Regions from separate parts of the Homo sapiens genome. Here region 2 is linked to region 1. Evidence: fine-mapped expression QTL. Tissue or cell type: subcutaneous fat. Region 1 holds a variant in brackets; the other region holds the start of a gene. All regions are shown on one strand. Distances are from middle to middle.

Region 1 (8,110 bases):
GAGAAAGCTTGATGTGGGATTCTGTCATTTGAGGTGTGTCTCACCTGAAGTTGAAAGAGAATTAGATCAAGGAGATGCAAGACAAGGAGCCAAAGAACTCTGTTACATATACCACTTAAAAAATCACCTGAAGGATCGCTTGAACCCAGGAGTTCAAGGCTGCAGTGAGCCGTGATTTTGCCACTACACTCCAGCCTGGGCAACAGAGTGAGACCCTGTCTTAAAAGAAAAAGAAAAGAAAAAAAGGCAAAAGAAAATCACCTGAAAGGGGATCTATAGATCACTTTTGTTTTTGTTTTTCTAAGCAGTCTTTTTTCTAAGAAAAAAATACAGAAAGTAGCACAGAGTATTCGTGTGAGCCAACCCTGACGGGTAACCCGTTGAAGTACATTTCCGAATGAACGCTGCTGGGAGAGAGGGGCACACAGCCAGCAGATAAGGTTGCAGGGGGATGAAGCCATAACACAGAGCATAGCTTTTTCTTTGTGGGGAGGCCTTTCAGATGCTGGTGATGAACCATGCAAGCTCCATTGCTCTGAAGTCAGGCTCACAGAAAGGAACAAACGGCAGGGAGAGGTTTACATCAAATTGCATCTGAACTTTCAACTACAGTCCTCCTAACAGCTGCCTTGGGTAAGAATCCTGGCAAGTGCGTTTAAATTTTTATTCATGTGCAGACAGGAGAGGAGGTGAGGAAACAATTCTGAGATGAAGAACTCCAAATTATGAGAAGAATGCCAACTGTCAATAATCAAAATAATTCTTCTCTGCATAATCAACACCACATCGGCACAGCTGCTGACGAAGAAACAATAAACACCAAATAAAAATAAAAATTTCTCTCTCTTTTTTTCATGCTACCTTACAAGGAAAATCTGTACTGGAGCAAGGCTTTGTGGAATAGTTCCTAAAACATGCAATCAACATTTTCTTGAAATTACAGCTGGCATCCTGTATCTAGCAAACTTCTTTCTTTCCACATTCTTATTTATACCTTGTAGAGACAGCTTAACACTCAATTGCTAGTGCCATGTGTTTGACAATTGATTGTGTACTGCCCAATGGCACACCTGACTTTAGAGCATTGAGATTATATATGTACATGTGTGTCTCTGCTGTACATGATTAGGATCATGTGACACTGATCAGTTCCACAGGGTCATTAGGCAGGAGTCCCAAACTTGCTCTTTATTTCATAGGATGACATCAATCCTAGTTTGAGGAGCAGCACAATCTCAGGTTTCTGAATTTAACTTCACAGGGTCCAGAGTCATTAGAGTGTAACATATTGGCTCTGGACTCAGACAGCTGGGTTGGAATTACACACCACCATTCACTATCACATGACTTCAGAATGTCACTTGACCTCCGGAGGTCTCAATGTATTCATCTGTAGAATGGGAATAAGAATACTCCCTCAGATGTTTGTTGTAGGAATTGTAAAGTAATTTGTGGAATATGTTCACACAAGGCATGGCTCACAGTGAGCACATGGCCAGTGTTAACTATTATAACTGCTCTGGGGTTGAGGAACAGTTCATCCCTCTGTCCTGAAATTCCTTCTATAACATAGTAATGGCCTACACTCCCTTTGACTTAGAAGGATTTCTACTTTCTCCCTATTTACTATAACTTGGCTATTCATTTGATTGTGAATTGCCCAAAGAACTATTAATGTCTGGATTCCGTAGGGGTTACACGTAGTGGTGCAAGATGTTAAGGGTGCCCTAGGGAAATGAACACAAGTCTCCCACATCAAAGGGTGAAGATGCACTAGCTAGTTGATTTAGCTCCTTTTCGGAACATATTCCCTTCATGTGCGTGGCTATAGTGTTGTGTGGGTGGCGCTAAAACTTGGAGATGATAGAGAACTATTCCTTCAAGGAAGAGATTCTCTTGAACTCTATTGGCGTTGGTCAAAAATGAACCCTTGTGAGACTGGCCGCCAAGGATCACATCGCAGAGGTAGTGCTATGTGTTTCTTCTTTTGGGGTACACAAAAAACTACATTTCCCAGATTCCCTTGGAGTTAGATTAGAACCATGTGGCCAATAGGATGTAAGTAAGAGAGACACTTTTGGGGCTTGTCTTAAAAATATCTAAAAATATTTCATCATGTCTTTGATGACCTTTCTTGTTATTCAGCACTCTAGACAGAGGGAAGAGAAAATGAAAAGGTCTTGAGACAGAAACAAGGTGATGTGTTAGAAGCCTACCCAGAACTAAGCTTAAGGCCTCAAATATATATCTCAAAAAGGAGTGAGTTGAGAGAGGTGGGCAAGGGGTAACCCAGTTCATGAATTAATATATAAACACTATATTCATAGGACAGCACCTCAGCCTCTCATTCACAGCCCATTTGTTATTCTAACAAGTTTCATTATCTGGCTTCCAGATCCAGAACAAATTAGAGACGGCTAATTTGCTAATCTTTTTCTTTTCTGTTTTTTTGTTTGTTTGTTTGTTTGTTTTTCTGAGACAGAGTCTTGCTCTGTCGCCCAGGCTGGAATGTAGTGGCGCCATGTCAGCTCACTGCAACCTCCGCCTCCCAAGTTCAGCAATTCTCCTGCCTCAGCCTCCTGAGTAACTGGAATTACAGGCGCTCACCACCACTCCCAGCTAATTTTGATATTTTTAGTAGAGAGGGGTTTCACCATGTTGGCCAGACTGGTCTCGAACTCCTGACCTCAAGTGATTTGCCCGCCTGAGCCTCCCAAAGTGCTGGGATTACAGGCATGAGCCACCACGCCTGGCTGAAGCAGCTAATTTGATGGGAGCACAGAACTGCTACAAGTAGACATACCCTCATCGATAAGATGAGGGTATTCTATCCCACCCACAAGCCCTCCACTTCTCATAGGTTTACAAGGCCATTCCCTTCGACTTTCCTCATACGACATGATGTCAATTCCCTTTTCACTTTAGCTCTCTCCTTTAAACCTCCTCTCATTCTCTTAAATCCTCTCACATCAAAATTTAATGCAATGTTGCATGTGTGGCTCCGTCAACAATGATTGGAGCCTGTGTTTAAGAGGCAGCCACAAACTCAAACACTTCCAGGGACAGAAACGTAGAGTAACTGAATAAAGAAAGCAAGTACAAGACAACAAGAAATAGTGTGCCTCATGGTGAGTAAATGAAAAGAAAATGTCCAGCCAAAGCCATTCTTGCATCAATCACAAGAAGGGATCCAATATTCTGACCCAGATGATTTGTGTAAGTCAGTCGAGACATGGCATGTTTGCCCAATATGTCTGAAAGAAAGAATGGATATTTCATATTTTAGGGAAAAATGTCTTCATCCCTGCTGTTGGACACAAACAAAGAAGCATGAGCCGCCATCTTGCCACTGGCCACCACCTTACAACCCTGAGGAGCAGGACCCGCATTGAGAAAATCAGGATGGAAACATGGAAGGCACCTGCATCCTTGATGATGCCACGAATCGCTGAACCAACCAGTCCTAGAGCGTACCCTAACTTTAATTTCTGTATGAGAACAAATGTTTCATTGTTTAAGACAGTTTGAGTTGGGACTTCTCATCCCACCCTCAGCAGCATCCTAGAAAACACAGAATTCCATTTGTAAGTGCTGTGATAACCAAATAAGACTTGCTCAGGAGCAAGACAGAACCCATGGGCACTTGAAATGTGAGCTATACTGTGAGCAAATACTCCCGGATTTTGAAAGACTTAGTGAAGAAAAAAAAAATTAAGGATCTCATTAATACACTTTTTATATCCATTACATCTCAAAACAATAATATTTTCTGTATGTTGTTTTAAATAAAATATATTCAAGTCAATTCGCCTATTTCTTATCTTTTTTAATTTGCTTACTAGAAAATTTAATATTACGTACGTATTCACATTGTATTTCTATTAGACAGCACTGATCCAGTTATTGTACTTCTTCCAATCAGCCTGAGGACATTAGGTCTCTTAACATTATTTACTAATACTTCATTTGCCGTCCACAAAAGTCTCTGAACTCTTCTTAGCCTTTCTTGTGCTTAATCATTCTCTCCATTCTGTTTTCTG[A/C]AGTTATTTTCTTAACCTAAGAAATTTATGTTGATCCTAATTATAGCTTAGAAGTCCATTGCTACAGGCCAATGGTTCACCAGAGGACATGCTGGAAATATGTGGGGGCAGTTTGGGTTGTCACATAAGGGGGAGGGGACACTGTGGCATTTAGTGAGCAGGGGCTTGGATATTGCATAGTGGATAAGAGAACTGTCTCACTTCCCATTCCCACATGCCAATCCCTATACATATGTATAAAAATGACCAGAAGCTGATTTCATTTTACTTATTAATATAGGTATTTTTTGCATGGGGCTAATGTAAATGAATTCTCCAGGAAAGCGACCGCTGTGTAAATGAAGGGAAAAGTATACTTTGTTTTGCTCAGAACTTCAGAAGTTATTCATCATTTAGAAAAATCACACATTTACAACAGTGGCAATACTGGTATATGAGTCACCAGAGTAGCTCAACTGCTTTGATCCACATTTGAGCTGCTCCACTAAGATAATTCTATGCATAGGTCCTATTAGGTTGGTACAAAAGTAATTGCAGTTTTTACCATTAATAATATACCTGTTAAATTTTTATTTCAAAATGTCAAATATAAAGAAAAAGTGTCAACAATATTCAATTGAATATTGTTTTCTCTTAAATTCAAACTAATTCATTACATCAGAGGCAAGCATCTAAGTACAATCAGTTCTGATATAATATAATATATGCATTCCTACAAATCACTTCGCTATGCAAAATCACACGGCATAACATTCAAAAACTTCAATATTGACACATTTAAAGAAACAAATAAAAATGGTTGCATGGTTTTACAGATGTTAAATGGTTAAGAAATATATAAGTACTACAACGCACATGGTACTTTACCTTGAAAAAGACCAAAAGTTTGCTTGTGTACCTGTGGGCCATGGAAACGTACAGCTTGTGAGTTACTGTGGAGAGTCACTCAGAGGCTGCACCTTTCTGTGGAAAGAAGAGTTGTCTGAATGAGAAGAAAGGGTGTAACACCAGCTGCAGATGGGTACGACTCACCACATGCAAAAAACTGAGGTTGCTGGGAGATGTTTGAGTCGTATGCAAGTGGACTCAGCTGGCTGCAGTTTCCTCTGTTCACCTCGTGTTGCTCATGAAAGAAATCATGCATAAGCAAACGGAAATGTTTATTTGTTCCTTCCTGTATCAGTCGTGCTATAATTAATTTGCATTTCCAAAACAAGTATTATGGCAGAACCAATCGTGTGTCATTATTTCCTAGTGTGATTTTATTTTTTAATGCCCTTTATTTCTCCTTTATACTACATTTAGGGCTTTATATTAAAGTTTGGAAATTACATGTCTAGGTGGCTGAGACATTCAGTTCACAATAATGAAAGTGGCACTTCAAAATATTTCATATAAAGAGGGTGTTGGGTCTAAAAGGGTTGAGAACCTCTGATCTAACCTACTGAGTAGTTGCTGAAGAATTGCGTTTCTATGCATTTGTTACTCCTCTTTGGTATGTGCAATCCATAGATTTAATAAATGTGTCTCCCACAGAGCCATTCAAATCACTAAAATGATTTTTTTTTCCAGGACAGGACTAAAGAAAGAATTCAGGTCTTGCCAGTAGAAATCGCCCTCTCATGCATCCATTAACCAGTCCCTAGACATTCATTCAATCACAAAACGACCTCACCTTTCATATCTGTCCATTTTGCCCAGCAGGTTAGCAAAAGAAACCCTGCCCAGGAACTTCCTGGGGTTAAGCCACCCCACAAAGCCAGACCATGCTGCTTGCCACATTCACATAATCCTCTGGTCTAAAATTCTCACCAAATAGAAAAGCTCATGTCATTGAGCTTTTCTGGAAATGCCTGAGCCTGCTGATGTTCCTTTAGAAAATGGTTTCCTGATTGGAAACCGGTGTTCTGTGGTCTGACCAGCACAGGAAATACCAACACATGAATAAAACACCTATTTTGATTTTGGTTTTGGTTTTTATAAATGGAGACATTTTCAAAAGAAAAGAAAAAAAATTATCGGGCTGGAGCAACAATTTCTAAATCCCATCACCTGGGTAGTGTTTAAAAATACATAGAACCAGTCCCTACTCCAGATCCACTGAGGTAGAATTTCTGGAGTTAGATCCCAGCAAGTGACATTAAAAACAATTTTTGCAGGAGTTTCTGGTGTGCAGCAATCATGCTTGGAAGCAAACATCTCAATCATTATGTCCTTCAAGTAGATATTAATAACTAGTGAATGCTAATACACACGCCAACTACGTGCTAGGGGCTGAGGCTTCAAAACCATGGTTTTCTAACTTGTAAGAGATACACAGTCTAATACACAGTGTCAACTGCCATACAAGAGGCAAATACTATGATAAAGCAGGTATTTCCCAACCTTTTTTCATGATTACCACCAGAAGAGCCATTTTAGATATCTTTTTCCTAATCTCTTCCTACCATGAAATTTTATATACTGTGTATCTGTTTATGTATTACATATATCTACATTTTATACATAAAAATAATCTTTTTATTCCCCTCTCCAAATAACCAGTCGGTGCCCCTTGGGGGCAATATTACCTGCATTGAGAATGCATGTGATAAAGGTATATGGAAAGGATAACGGGGCACAGTTAGTCAACTAACTGCCTGGGACAGTCAGGGAGGGTACATGAGGAAGTAACATTTGAACTAGGTTTTGTAGGATAAGTAAGAGTTTCCCATCTGAGAAAAGGGAGAGAAATGAGTTTAGGAGGAACGGCTCCCAAGCATGTTTGCTAACTGTTTGCAAAGCATGGTGTGCTCTGAGACCTGTACATCCACAGAAGGAGTGGGGCATTTTAAAATACAGATATTAAAATACAATTTTCATTAAAAAACTGACGCTTGGCCTGCCGTGGTGGCTCACGCCTGTAATCCTAGCACTTTGGGAGGCCGAGACGGGCAGATCAGGAGCTCAGGAGATCGAGACCATCTGGCTAACACGGTGAAACCCCATCTCTACTAAAAATACAAAAAATTAGCCGGGCGTGGTGGCGGGTGCCTGTAGTCTCAGCTACTCGGGAGGCTGAGGCAGGACAATGGCGTGAACCCGGGAGGCGGAGCTTGCAGTGAGCTGAGATCGCGCCACTGCACTCCAGCACTTCAGCCTGGGCGACAGAGTGAGACTCCGTCTCAAAAAAAAAAAAAAAAAAAAAAAAAAAAAAAAAAAAACTGAGTCTGATGAAGCATCAAATCCTGGAATCCTTTGCAGGTGGCATGAGTACACAGGGAACGGAAATTGTAAGAACATTGAGTTAGTAAAGACAGGTACTTGGTGCCTTTAATTTCAGCCTATGTCTCAGATGGAAAGGCTCCTGAGTAATAAATAATAGAGCACACTTTGGGCATAGTTCATTCACTCTTCTTCCAGACACATTTCAAAGACCATTCAAAGCAAGTTGTGAAAGCTCTGATTAACATACAACACAGAGCTCTCCCTATATACTCTCAAGGGTAAAAATACTGCTGAAAAGTCATTTCTTTTTAAAGCTGAGCATCTAACACCACCTTGTGAATGATAATAAATGGCATGCTAAGCTGCAAGGTAGACCAGCCCTCTGTCTGAGTCTGCAAGTTTTATTTACACAAAAATGCATACCCATTCTTTGGCCAAGAGACCATGATCGTCTTCCGGTGAGATAAGATTTCCTATGGGACTCCTGGTATTTCCCAATTCAAACTTGGTCAGAAATAGCAACCCAAACTCTCATGGGTTTGTTTTCCTTTTTTTTTTTTCTTCTTCTTCTTCTTCTTCTTGATAATTCCCATTCGAGCAACATTAGGAATGTACATGTATTTGCTCTTAAAATAATATTCCAGTTATCTTTCCTACAGTTGGAGAAGTTTAGGATTTTTTAACAGCTTCAAATCTTACTGAATATTTAGGGGAAAGATGTATAGATAAGGGACAAAAAATGTTGTAAGAGAGAAAATCCATACACCACCATCTTCATCCCACTAGGTATGGAGATAGAAACTTAATATGAAAATGGAAACTCTTGAACTAAACACCTTCAGAAGGGTGGCACTTGGACATTC
Region 2 (8,110 bases), 45 kb after region 1:
CTCCCAAAGTGGTGGGATTACAGGCGTGAGCGACCACGCCTGGCCTTGTTGTGCTTTTGACAGTCCATTAAGCTTCTGCATTGCCTTATTCTTATCCCAGTACCTGGCAGAAAAATCTAGCACATGGTGGGTGCCCAGTGTCTGAGGGTTAAATGATCAATGTTTATCCCCATCCTATTTTCCTACTTTAGGAACACTGCTCCCTGGATCACAAGATTGGTTGCAAAAAAGGTCCACCAAGGTAATCAGTGCCTTTGAAGAAGACAGAGTTAGCTAAATCTCCTAAAAATACTCAAGACAGGATCCTGACCAATTAATTAGCAGCTTCAAAGCTTGAAGTTCTCAATTCACATTGCAAAATGAATCAAGGCAGGTCACTGACTCTCACAGGCCTCCTTCTGTATCTGCTCCTGCACAACTTTCTGCTTCTTGAATAGCCTCAAGGAAATATCTGGAGCCTCCTGATCAATGCCAGGAGAGCAGAAGGCCCGGCTTCTCAGAACAGGCTCCAGCCATCTCAGCTGCACCCTTTGGGGAGCATAAATGGGAGGCCTGTATCAGCAAGTCCCACATCTCTGGGAAAAGAATCATCAGACTGCAATGCCCCAAATGGTGCCAGCAGCCAGATCTTGTATTCAATATGAGCTTTAAGTTGTTCACCAACTCTGAACCTTTGCATTGGGTATTCGGTCATATCTCAGGGGAAGTGGAGGAAAGTAAATGTCTAGTATCGCCAAGAAAAAAAATTAAAAGCACAACACCGTCAGTGAGGGCAGGAGGACAGGAAAGGGGATATTATCGGACATGTTTACCTATTCTTGCCAAACCTGGCAATTTCCAGGAGAGGCAAAGAGAGATTATTAACCGTTTATGAAATCTTGAATTAATAAAAACGCTGGCTCCATCTAAGGCTCTAACGGAAAGAAGGTGTGCTTCTTAATCAGAGAACCATTAACCAGGTGGCATCCCATTCTGCAAGCATTTAACCATAATTGCTTTAAGCCAGGCACACTTTATGCCCGTGAACAGACATGGGTGACGTCAGGTCTGCCTAAAGGAGCTCCTGGTGTAATAAGGGAAACAGGCATGCAGAGATGTACATGTTCAATACAGTAAGTTAATAGCAGCACATGAAGTATGAGTGAGGGACAGTGGAAATGCAGAAAAAGGACTGCTGGTGTGCATGGTGTTTAAGGAAAGCTGCATTAGGACAGACACACCTGAGCTGGACTATAAAGGGGGAATAGGAGTTTACGGTGGAAAGAAGAGAGAAAGCACTATCTGGACAGAAGGAACCCCAAAGGAGGGCATGCTCTAGGCAAGTGGCTTTTCAAACCTTGCTTTAGGAAACAGTAGCCTTTGCTCACACAGAACCTTGATCAAAGGCCAGCAAAGCTACTCTCCATGAAGCAGGACGGGGCTCCTTTTCCATGCCATTCTCTCATCCTGCCCTTGGCCACTCCACACTTAACACACAGTGGTCCTCACCAGAGTCTCATGGAACCCCAGGGCTATACAAGCAGACTTAGGAAACCACTGAACTAAGCAATACAAATTCTGCATTTGCAATGGTTAAAGTCAGAACTGGGATGGCCTTTTGAAAGTTTTGATACTGTCAGGCCACCCTAGATCCTTCCAGTTTTACTCCCCTCATCAAGTCTGATGACTTCATTCTTTCTTTGGAGGTGTCTGAAATTACCACCATGGTCACCTCCTGCAAAATCAGTTAGTTGTGTGGGTTCCCCATCTCTCTTCACATCTGGAAATGACTTACAAACAAGGATCTATCTTCTCCCTGCATTTTCTCCCACCAAAACCCACAAATTTTATTTAATGAAAAGTCACATAGCACTCAATATACCTGGACAGTGTCCCAAGCCCCTCCCAGATCTAACCAGCACCAAGTAGATACTTCATAAAAACTTGAATTAAAAACACCCTTTCAAATCTCAGCTTATTTTTCAAGATGATCTATTCCAGGGTTTTCCACACTTGCCTGATCATAACAGCAAGTTATGATACTTAAAAATCCTGGTACTTAAGAATCCAGATTCCCAGGATTCTGATTATCACTTCTCGTGTCTTTCTTTTCCAAGTGTGGTCAGGGAAGAGCAGCACCAGCACCACTTGGGAGCTTGTCAGAAATGCAGAATCCTAGGCCCTATCCCAGACCTACTGAGTCAGAATCTGCATTTAACCCGATTCCTAGGATTTTCTCATTCCCATTAAACTTTGAGAAGCACTACTCCAAGTCAGGGGACTTTATTCCGCCACCCCCCACCCCCAGCAAATGCCCTGGAGGAGAGGGGCTATAATTGGGAAAGTGGGTGAACATAGCAGCTCCATCGCTCTTCTCTGAATGAATCTCCCTCCACTGCCAAGTCCAGGCCACCCACAGCCACAGTCAGGAACCCTGAGAGAAGAAAAGGACTATTGTATATAAGTCAAGGTATGCCCCCATCCTGACTAAAAGAAAGAGAAAGCAGACTCCTGTAAAATCCACCCAAAGTAGGGAATCCTGATTCCCCAGCCAGGTTTCATGCCCCCAAGCATTTGTGAGTTCCCAGGGGAGCCTCAGGCTGCCAGTGAGCCAGTCCACCCATTTTCCATGTGGCATCTCCATGACCTTCCCCTACACCTCCTCCAACCCTCTTCCCTTGGCACTCACATGTCCACAGGACAATGCCATTCCTTCCAGAACTACTGAGTTCTGAACATCACAGACACTTCCTACAGGAACCACTGAACTAGAGGATACAACCCCACTCACCTGCCACCACCATGTCCTCCCATGCACGATTGCCACCTGCAAGGTCCGTCTGGAATTAGAAGACGGGAGTCCTGTTTGGGCACCTTGGGAAGTCTACTCTTTGAGTTTTCACATTTCAGAAAGTTTCCTAGATATAGACCTCATTCTCTAATCAGAATGGTTCTTTCACTCAGAGAAGGTGGTCTTACCAAGTTAAGCCTGCTTGTCGTGACTTCCTCTTCACTTAGGGTGAGTTCTTTCCTGGGAGCTCCTAAACATGCATGCAAACGTATTTCTGATAGAGACAGCTTATTCATCGGCTAGATGTGCCTGGATCCCAGTGTGAACACAACCTGGGCTCAAACCAGGTTCCTAGAGCACGTGTGCAACGCAGTGTAGAGTAAAGGAGTCTATGCTTTGTTATAGTTATTTATGAATGTCACCCCACTTGATTTCAAAATTACCTAGCCTGGCAGGCCTTATTAATCCCATTTTTCTGATAAGGAAAACGAGGTTCCTATGAGGGCAGTATCTTGCTCAGAGCTGCACTGTTTGACTCAAAGCTTCTTGAGTTCAGAAACTAAGCCTTATTTCTCACTATCTGTCTCCCCAGACCCTGTGCATTGTTCAGTATCTGCACTTCGTCTGTGCTCAGCAAATGTCTGTTGAATAAAAGAGTAAACGAATTGTGAATGTGGCCACAATCCACATCGGCAGTGGTGGGGATGCAAATAGGGACACATGCTTTAAATGAAAACACTCATCACTGGGAGCTCCACCTTCCAGATCCTCGGGACATCTGGGTTCTCTTGGACCTATCCCTTTCCACCTCTTCCCAGACCACTGACCCTGGTGTACTTTCTATTCCTGTCAATACAGAAGACAAGATGGTCCACGCTCAAGGTTAGGATAATCACCTCCAACACAGCCAGAAACTCCCTCACATGTGTTTGTGGGCATATTTGTTTGTGTGTGCACACATGGGAACATTTTACAAGATATACATCAAGACAACATTAATCATAGTGATTTCTTTTTTGTGGGGGTGGGCAGAGTCTCGCTCTGTCACCCAGGCTGAAGTGAGTGCAATGGCAGGATCTCAGCTCACTGCAACCTCCACCTCCCAGGTTTAAGTGATTCTCCCGCCTCAGCCTCCCAAGTAGCTGGGATTACAGGCACCCACCATCATGCCGAGCTAATGACAGTGATTTCTGCGTGAGTGGGATTATGCCCAATTTTATTTTCTCCCTTTCCACCTTTACACTTTTCTTCTTCAATTTAAATTTGTATTGAGGCATGACATGCATATAAAGAGCACACATCACTTAAGTACCTAGCTTGAGCAATTTTAACAAACTGAAACTATTCGTGAACCCAACACCCAAATCAAGACCCTACACATGACCAGCTCCAAAAAGGTACATTTGGGGCTCCCTTTCGGTCCCTAATGCCCACCCCCAAGAGTCACCAAGAGCCTGATTTTTATCACCAGAGAAGAATTTTTTCTCTGTGTGTGTGTGTGTATGTACTTGGTATAAAGAGAATCTCACTCTTTTGTGTCTGGCTTCTTTCAATCATCAGAACTCTAGTGAGATTTGTCCATATTATGCTGGAGCCATAAATCACTTGTTCTCATTGCTATTTATTGCTTTTTTAGGCATAAAAACTAACATAAATATTTTTAACAGGAAAAAGAAACCAGAGAAGTCAATGCTTTCAGCCACTGGTCCCCAGATACCAGCAATCCAGCAATCTCAGTGGAAAAAACAAACACTCTGGAATCATAGGTTCAAATCCAGACCCGGCCACTCACCTTTCCAGAGAGTGTTATTTCACAATGTGAGCCTCAGTTTCTTAATCTGAAAAATGGTGATCTTCATAGTTCCATGTGCAGGCACTGGTGACTTCCACCCAGATGTCCTTGTATTCTGTTTATTCCTGCTCAATGTTCATCTGCTGGCCTTGGGTATTTTTGCATCCAACTGCCCTTGGGTTGCTAAAGCCTTTTACAGGCACAGATGGGAACCACAGGTGCCTGGGAGTTTATTTATGCTGAGCCTCAAGGCCCAGAGCCAGTGACTGTCGGGTGCAGGGGTATGGAACTCCAGCTTTCTGGCATGCAGGACAGGTGCACTGTACGCTCCAGGGTTCCCCTGCAGGAGCAAACTCAAGCTCCCCTCCACAGGTCTCGGCCTGAAATCACACTCTTCTTGGGCTTCTCTCTCTTTTCACCCCTCTCCCCCTCTCCTCTGCCAGTTTTCCCTGGGAGTTCCTCCTTAATAAGTCACATGCACAGGATTTTTTTGTTTTGTTTTGTTTTTTGTTTTTTTGAGACAGCATCTGTCTCTGTTGCCCAGGCTGGAATGCAGTGGCATGATTTCGGCTCACTGCAACCTCCACCTCCCAGGTTCAAGCAATTCTCCTGTCTCAGCCTCCCGAGTAGCTGGGATTACAGACACCTGCCACAATGCCCAGCTACTTTTTGTATTTTTAGTAGAGACAGGGTTTCACCAGGTTGGCCAGGCTGGTCTCAAACTCCTGACTTCAGGTGATCTGCCTGTCTCAGCCTCCCAAAGTGCTGGGATTACAGGCATGAGCCACCGCGCCCATCCATAGGAATCTTTATACAGGGTCCACTTCTAGGGTACCTGGTCCGATGTTCCCTAAAGATTGTTGCAAGGTAAACATGGATAGTTGTGTATAAATCACCTGGCACCGACAGGTGCTCACACTTGTTAAATCTGTTCCCCATATCAACAGCAGGCTGGCTTTGCTCTGTGGCCACAGGCCTCAAATCATAAAATTCCCCAGGGTTAGAAGGAACCATAAATGTCCTGGACTCCTGGAGCCCTGAATTACTTAAATCACTCTTATCTCTCCCTGAAGAGTATTACGATGGCTTCTAAATGAAATAACCAGGGACAGCATTCTCCCCGCAAAACTCCAGCTTTATTGCATTACAATCAGCACAGCCATCTCGAGTGGAGATGAAGCTGTGAAGAGCGGATATTAAAGCCACCAGCTGCTTTGAGTGTCCCCCAGATCGGCAGCTAGATTACTGGCCTGGGCAGCACCTGCACCCTCTCCCATTCTACCCTAGCTGGCTGGAGGAGGCTCTGTCCTTGGGCAAAAGTGGGCACCCCTTGTGAAGCACTCACTTTTCCTGGGAAAGAGGGCTACCTGCACCATAATCTAAAAGTACAGATAGATGTTAAAAATAGGAAGGAAAAACATAGCAAACGCGGAATTATCTCTTTTCTTAAAAAAAGAAAATTCATTGTAACTGAATAATCCGTGGCACTGATCTGTATTCTAAGAGCAGGTTTTAGACTTGTTTCCCTCAACAGGAAGCGACCATCAGGGCCAGATACTGACAGGAAGCAGTTCTTTCATATTAATAGTTGCCGTTTATGTGCCGTGCACTCCTCTAAATGTTTAACAGTCTTTGAAGAAGCTATGTTCATCTTTGATTTGCAGATGAGGAAATGGAGATGTCAAGGAGGTAAACAGCTTACCTCCGAACCCATGCAGCAGGTGGTAACAGAGCTGAGACTCAAACCCCATTCTGTCTGCTTCCAAGGATGTCCTGTTAAGCAGAGCTATGGCCAGGAATTTGGATTCAAAAGATGTTTTAGTTTCCTTGAGTTTTACTGCAAATTGGGTGGCTTAAAACAACGTAAATGCTCCTCATCGTTCCTGAAGCTAAAATCCCTCCTTATATCTTTCTAGCTCTGGTGGTGGCTGGCAATCCCAGGCTTGTAGCGGCACCACTCCAACCTCTGCTCTTAGGGTCACACGGCATTCTCCCTGTGTGTCTGTCTTTGTGTCATCCTCCTTCTTCTTACTAGGACACCAGCCCTACTGGATTAAGAGCCCACCCTACTCCAGTGTGACCTCATCCTAACTAATTACATCTGCACCAACCCTATTTCCAAAGAAGGTCAGATTCTTAGATACTGGGGATGTGACTTCAGCATGTGTTTTGTGGGGACATGATTCAACCCACAACAAGCAGCCAGAAACTCAATTTCTTTCTTTCTTTCTTTCTTTCTTTCTTTCTTTCTTTCTTTCTTTCTTTCTTTCTTTCTTCCTTCCTTCCTTTCTTCTTTCTTTTTTCTTTCTTTCTTTCTCTTTCCTTTTTTTTTTTGATGGAGTTTTGCTCTTGTCACCTAGGCTGGAATGCAACGGTGCGATCTCAGCTCCTCAGCTCACTGCAACCTCCACCTCCCAAGTTCAAGTGATTCTCCTGTCTCAGCCTCCTGAGTAGCTGGGATTACAGGCGCCCACCACCATGCCAGGCTGCTTTTTCTATTTTTATTAAAGATGGGGTTTTGCCATGTTGGCCAGGCTGGTCTCAAACACCTGACCTCAGGTGATCCACCCGCCTCAGCTTCCCAAAGTGCGGGGGTTACAGGCGTAAGCCACCACACCTGGCCCAGAAATTCAGTTTCTAAACAAGGAAATTCAAAGAAACAGAGGAGGGGCTTGTTCTCCTGCCTCACAGAGGGACCCCTGGTCAGGCACTCAGTGCCTTTGATCCTAAGTCTCCATCTCTGTCTTTGTTCACCTGCTGCTGAGGTACTGGTCTCAGAAGAAGAGGCCAGCTCAGCACTGCAACAGGAATAAGGAAGAGCATGGGGGAGGGAGTTCAAGCTTCAAAATATGGTGCCCTCTTAATTGCAGTATTCTGAGGCAAAACCCTATGACCCGTTCTGGTTAAGACTCTACTCATAAAATACTTCTTCCAGATGGGGTCCTTAACTGCAAGCATGGAAACCAACTCTGGATGATTTTAATTGAAAGAAAATCTATTTTAAAGATAGGATCTAGCTCACTCAATAGCCAAGAAGGCTGGAGGACCAGCTTAAACAGTGCCCAGGAGCAAGAGAGTCTAAGAGACAGCCAAAATCAGAACCAGCCAGCCCAATGCAGACATTAGTGCCACTTGAGCATGGTCCCGCTGCCATGGGCCCACAGCCCTGCTGCCAGTAGGCCTTTGACATTACTACTGCTACCACCACACTAACAGCAAAGATTCTTCACTACCCCTGACTTTTCAGGCCACTGGCTCCAGATTCATAGTCACTGGTTGAGCTTGAGCCTAGCACACCCATCTAAGGACTCGTTGCAAGGAAGTCTGGGAAAGCAGGAATCTATCTTCTTGAGCCTTAATAGAGAAAGATGGCCACTGACTCCTCCGAAAATGAGTCATACACTGAGCAGTTACACAAATATAGGAAGGAGGTTCAAATGTTGGGCAAACAATGCAAAGTTGGTTTTTAGGGAAGATTCAATCTGGGTGTCCAGAAGCAAAGGTAAGATGGCAGGTGTCAGGGCCAAATGTGCTAAAAAGGGAGTTCA

What was found. PIP is the estimated chance that this variant, and not a neighbour inherited with it, causes the effect.
Region 2: it holds the start of DYNLRB2-AS1, and the variant in region 1 is fine-mapped to the expression of DYNLRB2-AS1 in subcutaneous fat (GTEx, PIP 0.95).

The regions. Positions count from the first base shown.
Region 1 is chr16:80,513,562-80,521,671 of GRCh38, forward strand. The region is part of intron 2 of DYNLRB2-AS1 (DYNLRB2 antisense RNA 1); the gene reads right to left. Among named protein-coding and RNA genes, the nearest start is that of DYNLRB2, 23 kb to the right of the region's middle. The variant A/C (reference allele first, on the strand shown) is at 4,041.
Region 2 is chr16:80,558,467-80,566,576 of GRCh38, forward strand. It overlaps DYNLRB2-AS1 (DYNLRB2 antisense RNA 1), which reads right to left and starts at 4,669. Exons shown (of 6, transcript NR_120307.1): 1 at 4,563-4,669.